Regions from separate parts of the Homo sapiens genome. Here region 2 is linked to region 1. The links come from fine-mapping of genetic effects on gene expression. A gene starts in region 1. The other region holds a variant in brackets. All regions are shown on one strand. Distances are from middle to middle. Region 1 holds the start of LNCSRLR (lncRNA sorafenib resistance in renal cell carcinoma associated). Region 2 overlaps PLOD2 (procollagen-lysine,2-oxoglutarate 5-dioxygenase 2).

Region 1 (5,400 bases):
GAGTGATGTCACTCTTTTCCAAGGCCACTTTTTATTCCTTGCGTTTTCACAGTGAGCTGTGGTGAAAATTCTAAGGCAAATGTTATCTGGCTCTGAAAACTGTTTTTGTGTGTAAAGATAGGAAGGAGGGATCTGAGTGCCTTAGGTGTAATTCAGTTTTGCATTTGCATTCAGTGTCAAAGACTTGGCAGGAAATACTACTGCCAGTGGTTAGATGTGTTTCTTTCCCTCTGAGAACAGACATGCCATTTTAGCAGAATACTCTGGAATATTACTGCCTCTGCACGGTTATGTCCCCCAGGTAATGAGCTGATAAGGGAGAGGGAAGCTTAAAGTATAAGGAAGAACTTAAGTTAGTGGGTGATGAAATAATGAAAAGCAATCATTCAAAAACTTTTGAGTGTTACAAATAGAAGTGAGGAAGGGCGGGGAAAGCTTGTTTTTAGTGTTTGGTAATACAGACAGCAGATATGCTAAGTGTATGCTCATCAAGCAGCTGAGACTGCCTAAAGGGTCACTGTAAAAAAAGACTCATTTTTAAGAAAGGATGTGAGGGCTTAGGAAGTCAATTTTATTTACTTTATAGCTAAACTTCACATATACATTTAAGAAGTAGGAAAGGAGTCTACTGACCTTACATTACTTTGTTTCGTCATTGTATCATTGACAAAGCTGTTACCTAAGTTATTTTGATAATTTTACAGTTAAAGCAGATGATATACCACATTGGAACAACTGTTATTTTTATTGTCTATTATGATCTGTGGTTGAAAAAAAATACTATAATATAAATGGGAATTGCACGTGGAGTACAGCTTATTATGTCATTAATGTTGTTTCTAGGATAGCCGTATATCTGGTGGTTATGAAAATGTCCCAACTGATGATATCCACATGAAGCAAGTTGATCTGGAGAATGTATGGCTTCATTTTATCCGGGAGTTCATTGCACCAGTTACACTGAAGGTCTTTGCAGGCTATTATACGAAGGTAGTTATCCTCTCACCCCTCCAGCCTATTTCTTACCCATTTTTACACAGGTGTTCTTTTTAATGTTTTTATTAATAAGCAAATCCACTGGCTTACTTTGCTTTTTCAGGGATTTGCACTACTGAATTTTGTAGTAAAATACTCCCCTGAACGACAGCGTTCTCTTCGTCCTCATCATGATGCTTCTACATTTACCATAAACATTGCACTTAATAACGTGGGAGAAGACTTTCAGGTAATTATGACTCTTGTGTTTTTAGATTTTTCAAAAGAAATATATCATTATGAAAAGGACTTTGCCTTAGGCCTTAGTTTCTTTTTTAAATTTTGCTCAAATGACATAATTTGAATTTTGCCACTGGTTAAATATAATCTGATGTATTTCTTCATTTTAACTTTTTTAGGGAGGTGGTTGCAAATTTCTAAGGTACAATTGCTCTATTGAGTCACCACGAAAAGGCTGGAGCTTCATGCATCCTGGGAGACTCACACATTTGCATGAAGGACTTCCTGTTAAAAATGGAACAAGATACATTGCAGTGTCATTTATAGATCCCTAAGTTATTTACTTTTCATTGAATTGAAATTTATTTTGGATGAATGACTGGCATGAACACGTCTTTGAAGTTGTGGCTGAGAAGATGAGAGGAATATTTAAATAACATCAACAGAACAACTTCACTTTGGGCCAAACATTTGAAAAACTTTTTATAAAAAATTGTTTGATATTTCTTAATGTCTGCTCTGAGCCTTAAAACACAGATTGAAGAAGAAAAGAAAGAAAAAACTTAAATATTTATTTCTATGCTTTGTTGCCTCTGAGAATAATGACAATTTATGAATTTGTGTTTCAAATTGATAAAATATTTAGGTACAAATAACAAGACTAATAATATTTTCTTATTTAAAAAAAGCATGGGAAGATTTTTATTTATCAAAATATAGAGGAAATGTAGACAAAATGGATATAAATGAAAATTACCATGTTGTAAAACCTTGAAAATCAGATTCTAACTGGATTTGTATGCAACTAAGTATTTTTCTGAACACCTATGCAGGTCTTATTTACAGTAGTTACTAAGGGAACACACAAAGAATTACACAACGTTTTCCTCAAGAAAATGGTACAAAACACAACCGAGGAGCGTATACAGTTGAAAACATTTTTGTTTTGATTGGAAGGCAGATTATTTTATATTAGTATTAAAAATCAAACCCTATGTTTCTTTCAGATGAATCTTCCAAAGTGGATTATATTAAGCAGGTATTAGATTTAGGAAAACCTTTCCATTTCTTAAAGTATTATCAAGTGTCAAGATCAGCAAGTGTCCTTAAGTCAAACAGGTTTTTTTTGTTGTTGTTTTTGCTTTGTTTCCTTTTTTAGAAAGTTCTAGAAAATAGGAAAACGAAAAATTTCATTGAGATGAGTAGTGCATTTAATTATTTTTTAAAAAACTTTTTAAGTACTTGAATTTTATATCAGGAAAACAAAGTTGTTGAGCCTTGCTTCTTCCGTTTTGCCCTTTGTCTCGCTCCTTATTCTTTTTTTGGGGGGAGGGTTATTTGCTTTTTTATCTTCCTGGCATAATTTCCATTTTATTCTTCTGAGTGTCTATGTTAACTTCCCTCTATCCCGCTTATAAAAAAATTCTCCAACAAAAATACTTGTTGACTTGATGTTTTATCACTTCTCTAAGTAAGGTTGAAATATCCTTATTGTAGCTACTGTTTTTAATGTAAAGGTTAAACTTGAAAAGAAATTCTTAATCACGGTGCCAAAATTCATTTTCTAACACCATGTGTTAGAAAATTATAAAAAATAAAATAATTTTAGAAAGTTTTGTTGTTCTATTATTGGTGTTTATCTTCCAACGTGAATACATGATGGAATTGTCTGAAAGAATGAAGCCTTTGATTTTTCATTTTGCTTAGTAGATTTAATGATATACGAAACTATTGAATTATAAATGAAATTATAAAATCTTCAATTTTAGGATGACTAGGGATTTGATCTAACTCGTTTTCCAAGTGAGAAAATAGAAGCCAAATGTTATTCAATATAGGTTTATTTGTTTATTAATATTTTCTGGGTCTCTATTATGGGTCAGGCACTGTTCCAGGCACCAAGGATATGTTGATGAAGAAGACATTATAGTCACTGTGAGATGGACTTAAAAAGATAAGGAAGTTGGTTCTACTCCTGTTCTCTTCTTTGGCGACACTTAATACCCAAAGAAAATTTCTACTATCCATCAACTAGGATAAGGAGACATTTTAGTAATGATTTGTGAATTATGTTACTGTACATCAGGAATGGTTTTCAAAATATGTAACACCTGGTATGATGTAGATGCCAACTCATCGGAACAGACTCTGGTTATAAAAGCAGATCGGTTCGTTCCTACCAGTGCAAGCCAGCTTAATATCTCTTGTGGTACAGTTCAAAGACATCTCCCAGGTACTAGTTATTTTCCATTTTGGTATCCATGGGTGGTTACTTAGCATAACTATTTCAGTCTCATGCCATGTTTTCAGAAATGGGATCCAGGTAGTCTATTGAGCACAGTTTTTTTGTCTTTCCTCTTATCCTACATTCCATGAAATAATATAAAATGTAGCTTTAAAAAGATGATTCATAATTACTGAGAGAAAATTAGAAAAATTCCCATAAGTAGATTAAAAAATTTGAAAAACGGAAAACGAGTAGAATTGGAAGGATGGAGAAAAATACAGCTTGAAACACACAGAGCAGAAGATACAGAAAGTACATCTATTGTTTGATTCATTCATTTTATGCAATATAATAAAGGCTTTTTAAAAAAAATACACACACACACCCATATATATAAACAATTATCCCCTGAATAATATGGGCGTTAGAGGCACTGATCCCCATGCAGTCGAAAATCCACATGTACCTTTTGACTCCCTCAACACTTATCAACTAATAACCTACTGTTGACTGGAAGCCTCACTGATAACATAAACAGCTGATGAACATTTATTTTATATGTTATATGCATTATACACTGTATTGTTACAATAAGCTAGAGAAAACGTTATTTAAAAAATTATAAAGAAAGATAAAATATATTTACTATTCATTAAGTGGAAGTGGATCATCATAAAGGTTTTCATCCTTGTTGTCTTCGCGCTGAGTAGGCTGAGAAGGAAGGGGAAGAGGAAGGGTGTCTCAGGGGTGGCAGAGACAGAAAAAACCGGCATACACATGAGCCCGCGTAGTTTAAGCACATGTAGTCCAAGGGCTTATTGTGTATCTGCAACAATCAGATATCTCTGACAGATGAACCTGATAAAGTCACACTATTTAGAGTATGATACCATTTATGTTAAAAACAAAATACTATATATGTGTGCATAAACCTACAGAAAATTTCCTAGAGAGGAACAACTCTGGAGAGTGGTATGAGATCACGGAGGAGTAAATAGGATTTATGCCTTTTACGTTTTACACTTGTGTTTTTGAAATATTATAGAAATATATTTGTATATTGATTGTTTAAAGAAAAAAAGACTAGAAGGAAAAGGAGACATTCACGTAACTAATTTGAATAAATGGAAGCATATGGATGTCAATAGTAACCGTGTGTGTGTGCGCATGTGTGTGTATGTGTATACATACATTACCAAGGTGCTTTAAATGCTCACCGTGGTAGAATTTTTTCTAATTCTTAATGCGCATAGGAATCAATATGAATATTTTCCTTAATATAGATACTTCAGTAGTCATCCAGTGCATTAATCTTCATTCTGCTTCATCTTTGAAAACACTAGTAATTTATCTGTATTGGTAACTTAACTAAGAGGTCAAATATCCTTCTATGGAATAGAAATGTGGAAAACAATGAACATATGAGTTGAGTGGTCCATCCTCGTCACAGAATCTCTTTATGTACTCACTTCTGTTTTCCTGTCTGACATACGTATGTCTTGATTTATTTGCTTTTTATGCCCTAAAGCCCATTTTACATGACATGCTGGTAACTTGTCATTCATTTGGAATTTGGAATGGTTATTCAACAGATGTCTTAAAGTTTCAGAAGAGCCCAGTAGAATTTTTAGTCATAATTGAGTCTGTGTAAATAACTCCCTCTGACTAGACTAGAGGTTAACTGTTGCGGAATATTGAAGTCTTCAAGACTTCATGAAAGCAGTGTATCAAACAGAACTGTTTGTTTTGTGGTCTTTTAGAATAGCAAGCCACAGCATTATTTAAGAATAATTATTAACAAAAAGCCATTGGGAAGAAAAATAGGGAAATGTATAAAACTTTTTAATGCAATGAGTTTTGGATTAAAATAGAAGTACACTAAGAAATAATGAGAAGAGAAAATTGTACATGTAGAAATGCTTTAAAAATGTGAAGTATTGCATAATTACATTATTTTG
Region 2 (5,400 bases), 49 kb before region 1:
TGTCTCTACTAAAAATACAAAAAATTAGCCGGGCGTGGTGGCAGGTGCCTGTAATCACAGCTACTTGGGAGGCTGAGGCAGAGAATTGCTTGAACCCAGGAGCAAGGTTGCAGTGAGCCGAGATTGCGCCACTCTACTCCATCCTGGCAACAGAGCAAGACTCCATTTCAAAAAAAAATTATTGACAAGGAATTATTGTTTTAAAAAGTAGATATTACTATTCTGTAGGTTGCCCGTTCGCTCTGATGGTAGTTTCTTTTGCTGTGCAGAAGCTCTTTAGCTTAATTAGATCCCATTTGTCAATTTTGGCTTTTGTTGCCATTACTTTTGGTGTTTTAGACATGAAGTCCTTGCCCATGCCTATGTCCTGAATGGTATTGCCTAGGTTTTCTTCTAGGGCTTTTATGGTTTCAGGTCTAACATTTAAGTCTTTAATCCATCTTGAATTAATTTTTGTGTAAGGTGTAAGGAAGGGATCAAGTTTCAGCTTTCTACATATGGCTAGCCAGTTTTCCCAGCACCATACAGAAAGGGAGAAAATTTTTGCAATCTACTCATCTGACAAAGGGCTAATATCCAGAATCTACAATGAACTCAAACAAATTTACAAGAAAAAAACAAATAGGGCCATCAAAAAGTGTGTGAAGGATGTGAACAGACACTTCTCAAAAGAAGACATTTATGCAGCCAAAATACACATGAAAAAATGCTCATCATCACTGGCCATCAGAGAAATGCAAATCAAAACCACAATGAGATACCATCTCACACGAGTTAGAATGGCGATCATTAAAAAATCAGGAAACAACAGGTGCTGGAGAGGATGTGGAGAAATAGGAACACTTTTACACTGTTGGTGGGACTGTAAACTAGTTCAACCATTGTGGAAGTCAGTGTGGTGATTCCTCAGGGATCTAGAACTAGAAATACCATTTGACCCAGCCATCCCATTACTGGGTATATACCCAAAGGATTATAAATCATGCTGCTATAAAGACACATGCACAGGTATGTTTATCGCGGCACTATTCACGATAGCAAAGACTTGGAACCAACCCAGATGTCCAACAATGATAGACTGGATTAAGAAAATGTGGCACATACACACCATGGAATACTATGCAGCCATAAAAAATGATGAGTTCATGTCCTTTGTAGGGACATGGATGAAGCTGGAAACCATCATTCTCAGCAAACTATCGCAAGGACAAAAAACCAAACACCGCATATTCTCACTCATAGGTGGGAATTGAACAATGAGATCACATGGACACAGGAAGGGGAACATCACACACGGGGGCCTGTTGTGGAGTGGGGGAATGGGGGAGGGATAGCATTAGGAGATATACCTAATGTTAAATGACAAGTTACTGGGTGCAGCACACCAACATGGCACATGTATACATATGTAACTAACCTGCACGTTGTGCACATGTACCCTAAAACTTAAAGTATAATAAAAAAAAAGAGGCAAAAGTAGATATTACTAGTTATAAAACTATTGTATTAATCAGTTCTTGTGCTGCTACAAATTCCTGAGACTGCATAATTTATAAAGAAAAGAGATTTAGTTGGCTCACAATTTCACAGGCTGTACAGGAAACATGATGCTGGCCAGCTGCTTGGCTTCTGGAGAGGCCTCAGGAAACTTAGGATCATGGCAGAAGGCAAAGGAGGAATGAAGGTCTCACATGATTGGAGCAGGAGGAAGTGAGGGGATGTGCTACATGCTTTTAAACAATCAGATCTCATGAGAACTCTATAATGAGAACATCACTAGGGTGATGGTGCTAAACCATTAGAAACTGCCCTCATGATCCAATCACCTCCCACCCAACCCCACCTCCAGCACTGAGGGTTACGTTTCAACATGAGATGTGGGTGGGGACGTAGATTCAAATTATATCAACTATGGTCTGAGATGATGTAATTAAAGATGATGAATTACCATAAACACTAATGAGACAACATGGCAAGAGCTAACGTTTTTGTGAAATTCATACTTTAGTCTTGAGTTAAGAATAAAGATCATAGTGAGCTTTACTATTGAGACGGGTAACTTAATGGATTCTGGTTAAACAGAAGAAAAAAGACCACGCAAAGTTATAAATACAAGTGAGACATTAGAAAGCCTGTGTTACTAAGAAAGAAGAACCTTTTTAATGTAAATGTATTTTGTGTAATATTTCACTCTCCTAATTAAAATATCCACTCTTTTTTGCCATCTTCTTATAATTTTATAATAACATCAAATTGTCATGAGTTATTAGTTACTACTTCCTTTATTTTATTTTCTGTGTCTTATTTGTTTTTGTTATTGATTGCTCATTTTAAGTCCCCATGAATTTTCCCCTCTAACTTAGGAAGGTCTTTTTACATATTTTTTCTCAATTTGAAAATATAAAGACACAAATTATTTGCAGATGAAAATAAGAGTAATATTTTTATGCATTAGTATAAATAAGAAAGTTATAAATTATGAAATGAAAATAGATGTTAATATAATGAAGTCCCAGTGCCGTACACACTTAAAAATTTTCAAAAGATACATAACACTTGCATCTGTAAAATTTTCCTGTTATATTTTACACAAAATATTAAGTTCTGCTTGTGGTTACCTATTTTGCAAGATGAAGTATGGTAAGGCAAGTGTTAGCCATAGTGTACTGGGAATTTTTCTACAGCATTTGTTATTTTTTTTACACTTAGAAAAAGAATACCAAGTTCATTAAAATAGCTCTGTAGAATAAATACTGGGTATGTTTTGGTTTAAAATTACCATGGATTTCAAACAACCATATTAGTCAGCTTAAACTTGCCACATGTACATTTTCACTTTGGCTCTGAGGCAGATTCTCCTTGTAAGAGTTACTACATGTGAGTCAGAAATGATTTTACATCCTCAAGCTTCCTTTTGGGTTTTAGGAAGAACTTTTCTCTACCATCACTCTCGCATC[A/G]CCATCCCCCACCTCCGGCCCCCTATCTAATATTTGTCCTTGTGGACAACTGGTATAGTGAGGGACCTATTTTTTTCTCATGAGAAGAAGGACACTGTGATATACCTAAAGCCTGCTTGAGGTTGAGTTTGTTGATTTAGATGATACTTTAGGACCCAGCTTGACAGAAAAGATAATAAAATTTTAATGGAAGACACAGTGTCTTCCAGGCACTGTTAGTGTTTGGGATATATAATGGAAACAAACAGATAAAATTTCTGACATCTCCTGTGAGAACAGCCAGCTAACTGAAAACATGGGTGCCCACTCAGCCAAGTTGTTGTCTAAGAAGAGTCATTAACATTTTCTGCATCATTACCTACCATGACTATCCTGTGGAAAAAACCTAGGGGTCATGAGAAAGTAACCAGGAGGTTAAAGAGGGATGAGCAATTGAAGCCACATAAGAAATTTTTTTTACCCTTCTTATTTTTTAAAAACAACACCCTTTTTAAAAAGTTTATACAGAGTAATGAATCTAGTTGAAAATTGTAATCTAGGGCCTGGGAGAATGAATTAAACTGTTTGTAAATGGTTTGAAATATGATGCCCATTCTGTAACACAATTCCTAAACTCTTAATTAAGGTTAGCTCTGGTAAAGGTCCAGAATTCAGGATATGTTCATTTTAATAAAGCAAAACATTCTTATTTTTTATGTGGTATTTTTAAGGACAACTCAACTGTTTTATGGAAGCATAGGTCACTATCATATGAAAATATACACAGATGTATATACTTAGTGGTTTAGATGAGCCTTTTAAGAAACACAGCTTTGTTAGGGCATAATTTATATAACATGCCATAAACATTTGTAAGTGTAAAATTCAATGAATTTAATTAAATTTACAGAGTCGTGCAGTCATCCCCATTATGCAATTTTAGAATGTTTCCAATACCCCATAATTATCCCGTATTCCATTTAGACATGCTAAAAAGCCTGAATTAATTTAGAAACAATTTTGTCGCATTCCTTCCATGGAATATGTATTCTAAACTTACTTTTGGATGAACGTTTAAAATTAGAAACTGGCTCTTTATAATCTGTAGGGTAAGATTTATTATATTTAATTTAGATAAAAAAATTTAGATATTTGGCAAGGTTTTAGGTTATTCTCAGAACAAAAGGAAAACTGAAGATATCCATATATGAGTGAGACCATCTGATACTGTCTTTTTGTGCATGGCTTATATCATTAACCTAGTAACCTCCAGTTGTAACCATTTTATTGTTGCAAATAACAGGATTTCCTTCTTTTTTATGGGTGAATAATATTCCATTATGTGTGTACTCCGTATTTCCTTTATCCATTCATCTGTTGATACATACTTAGATTTGTTCCATATATTTACTATTATAAGTAGTGTTGCAGTAAACATGGAAGTATAGGTATCCCATTGATATACTTATTTTCTTTCCAACAGCACAACAAAAATATCCCCCATGATCAAGTGGGATTTATCCCAGGAATGCCAGGATGGTTCAATATTTATCTGTTAAAATTGTATTTGTTTTATGCCAACTAACTCCCTTTCCCTCCCTCCAAAATTTATAAAATAATTTTAATCATTTTATTGTGATTTTATCATAATCTGTTGTGCAAAGTCAACTGGGTACGTGGGTGTTTTTAACTGTGTGTGTGCGTGTGTGTGTCTGTGTGTCTGTGTCTGTGTGTCTGTGTCTGTGTGTTTTGAGGGTGGGTGGTTAGGAGTGGATCCATAGTATTGGTTTGTGATGTTAATTATCTCTGGAAATATAGACATATGCTTCAGGTGAAGATATGATGAAAGAATTATCAGGTGTGAAGCTACTTCTGTGCTGCTAATAGTTTGGATGATTATAATTTTTGCTGAAGTTTATGCCAATAATGATAAAGGATTGGGGCTAAATGACAAGGTTAGGGAACACTTCTGTTGCTTTCTTTTTTGGCTATATGGGAGCTTTTGCTTCTTGTTGAGACTCAAGATGATGGATTCTGTGGCTTGTACCACTGCCTGTTTTTGTAAAAAGTTTTATTGAAATGCAGCTGTGCTCATTTGTTTACATATTGTCTGTGGTGGCTTTTGCAACACAGTGACAGAGTTCAGTCACTGTGACAGACAATATGGTCATCAGGACCTAAAATATTTTCTGTAAAAGGCCAGAGAGTAAATATTTACTGACTCCCGCTTTAGGCCATAGTTGAGAACCATTGATACAGTCTGGGAACTGGCACAGAATCATTTTTAAAATAGTTTGTCAGACAGTCTTATTTATGAGTGAGGAAGAGATGGGTAATGTAGAGGTCTCTAGGGTTTTAAAATTAATCTAGCCTTGTGCCTTCTAGTGGGAGTGGAGAGGATTTGAATGCAAAATAAATTAAGTAGATGGAATCAATAGGATTAAGGAAAAGATTCCATGAGATA

Evidence for each region. PIP is the estimated chance that this variant, and not a neighbour inherited with it, causes the effect.
Region 2: its variant is the best candidate, but not a certain one, in a credible set for the expression of LNCSRLR in fibroblasts (GTEx, PIP 0.55).

What each region holds. Positions count from the first base shown.
Region 1 is chr3:146,066,867-146,072,266 of GRCh38, reverse strand. It overlaps LNCSRLR (lncRNA sorafenib resistance in renal cell carcinoma associated), which reads left to right and starts at 3,082. Exons shown (of 2, transcript NR_146297.1): 1 at 3,082-3,448. PLOD2 (procollagen-lysine,2-oxoglutarate 5-dioxygenase 2) reads left to right here. Exons shown (of 20, transcript NM_182943.3): 18 at 844-990; 19 at 1,100-1,225; 20 at 1,395-2,827. The coding sequence ends at 1,550.
Region 2 is chr3:146,115,513-146,120,912 of GRCh38, reverse strand. The region is part of intron 3 of PLOD2 (procollagen-lysine,2-oxoglutarate 5-dioxygenase 2); the gene reads left to right. Among named protein-coding and RNA genes, the nearest start is that of PLOD2, 43 kb to the left of the region's middle. The variant A/G (reference allele first, on the strand shown) is at 2,958.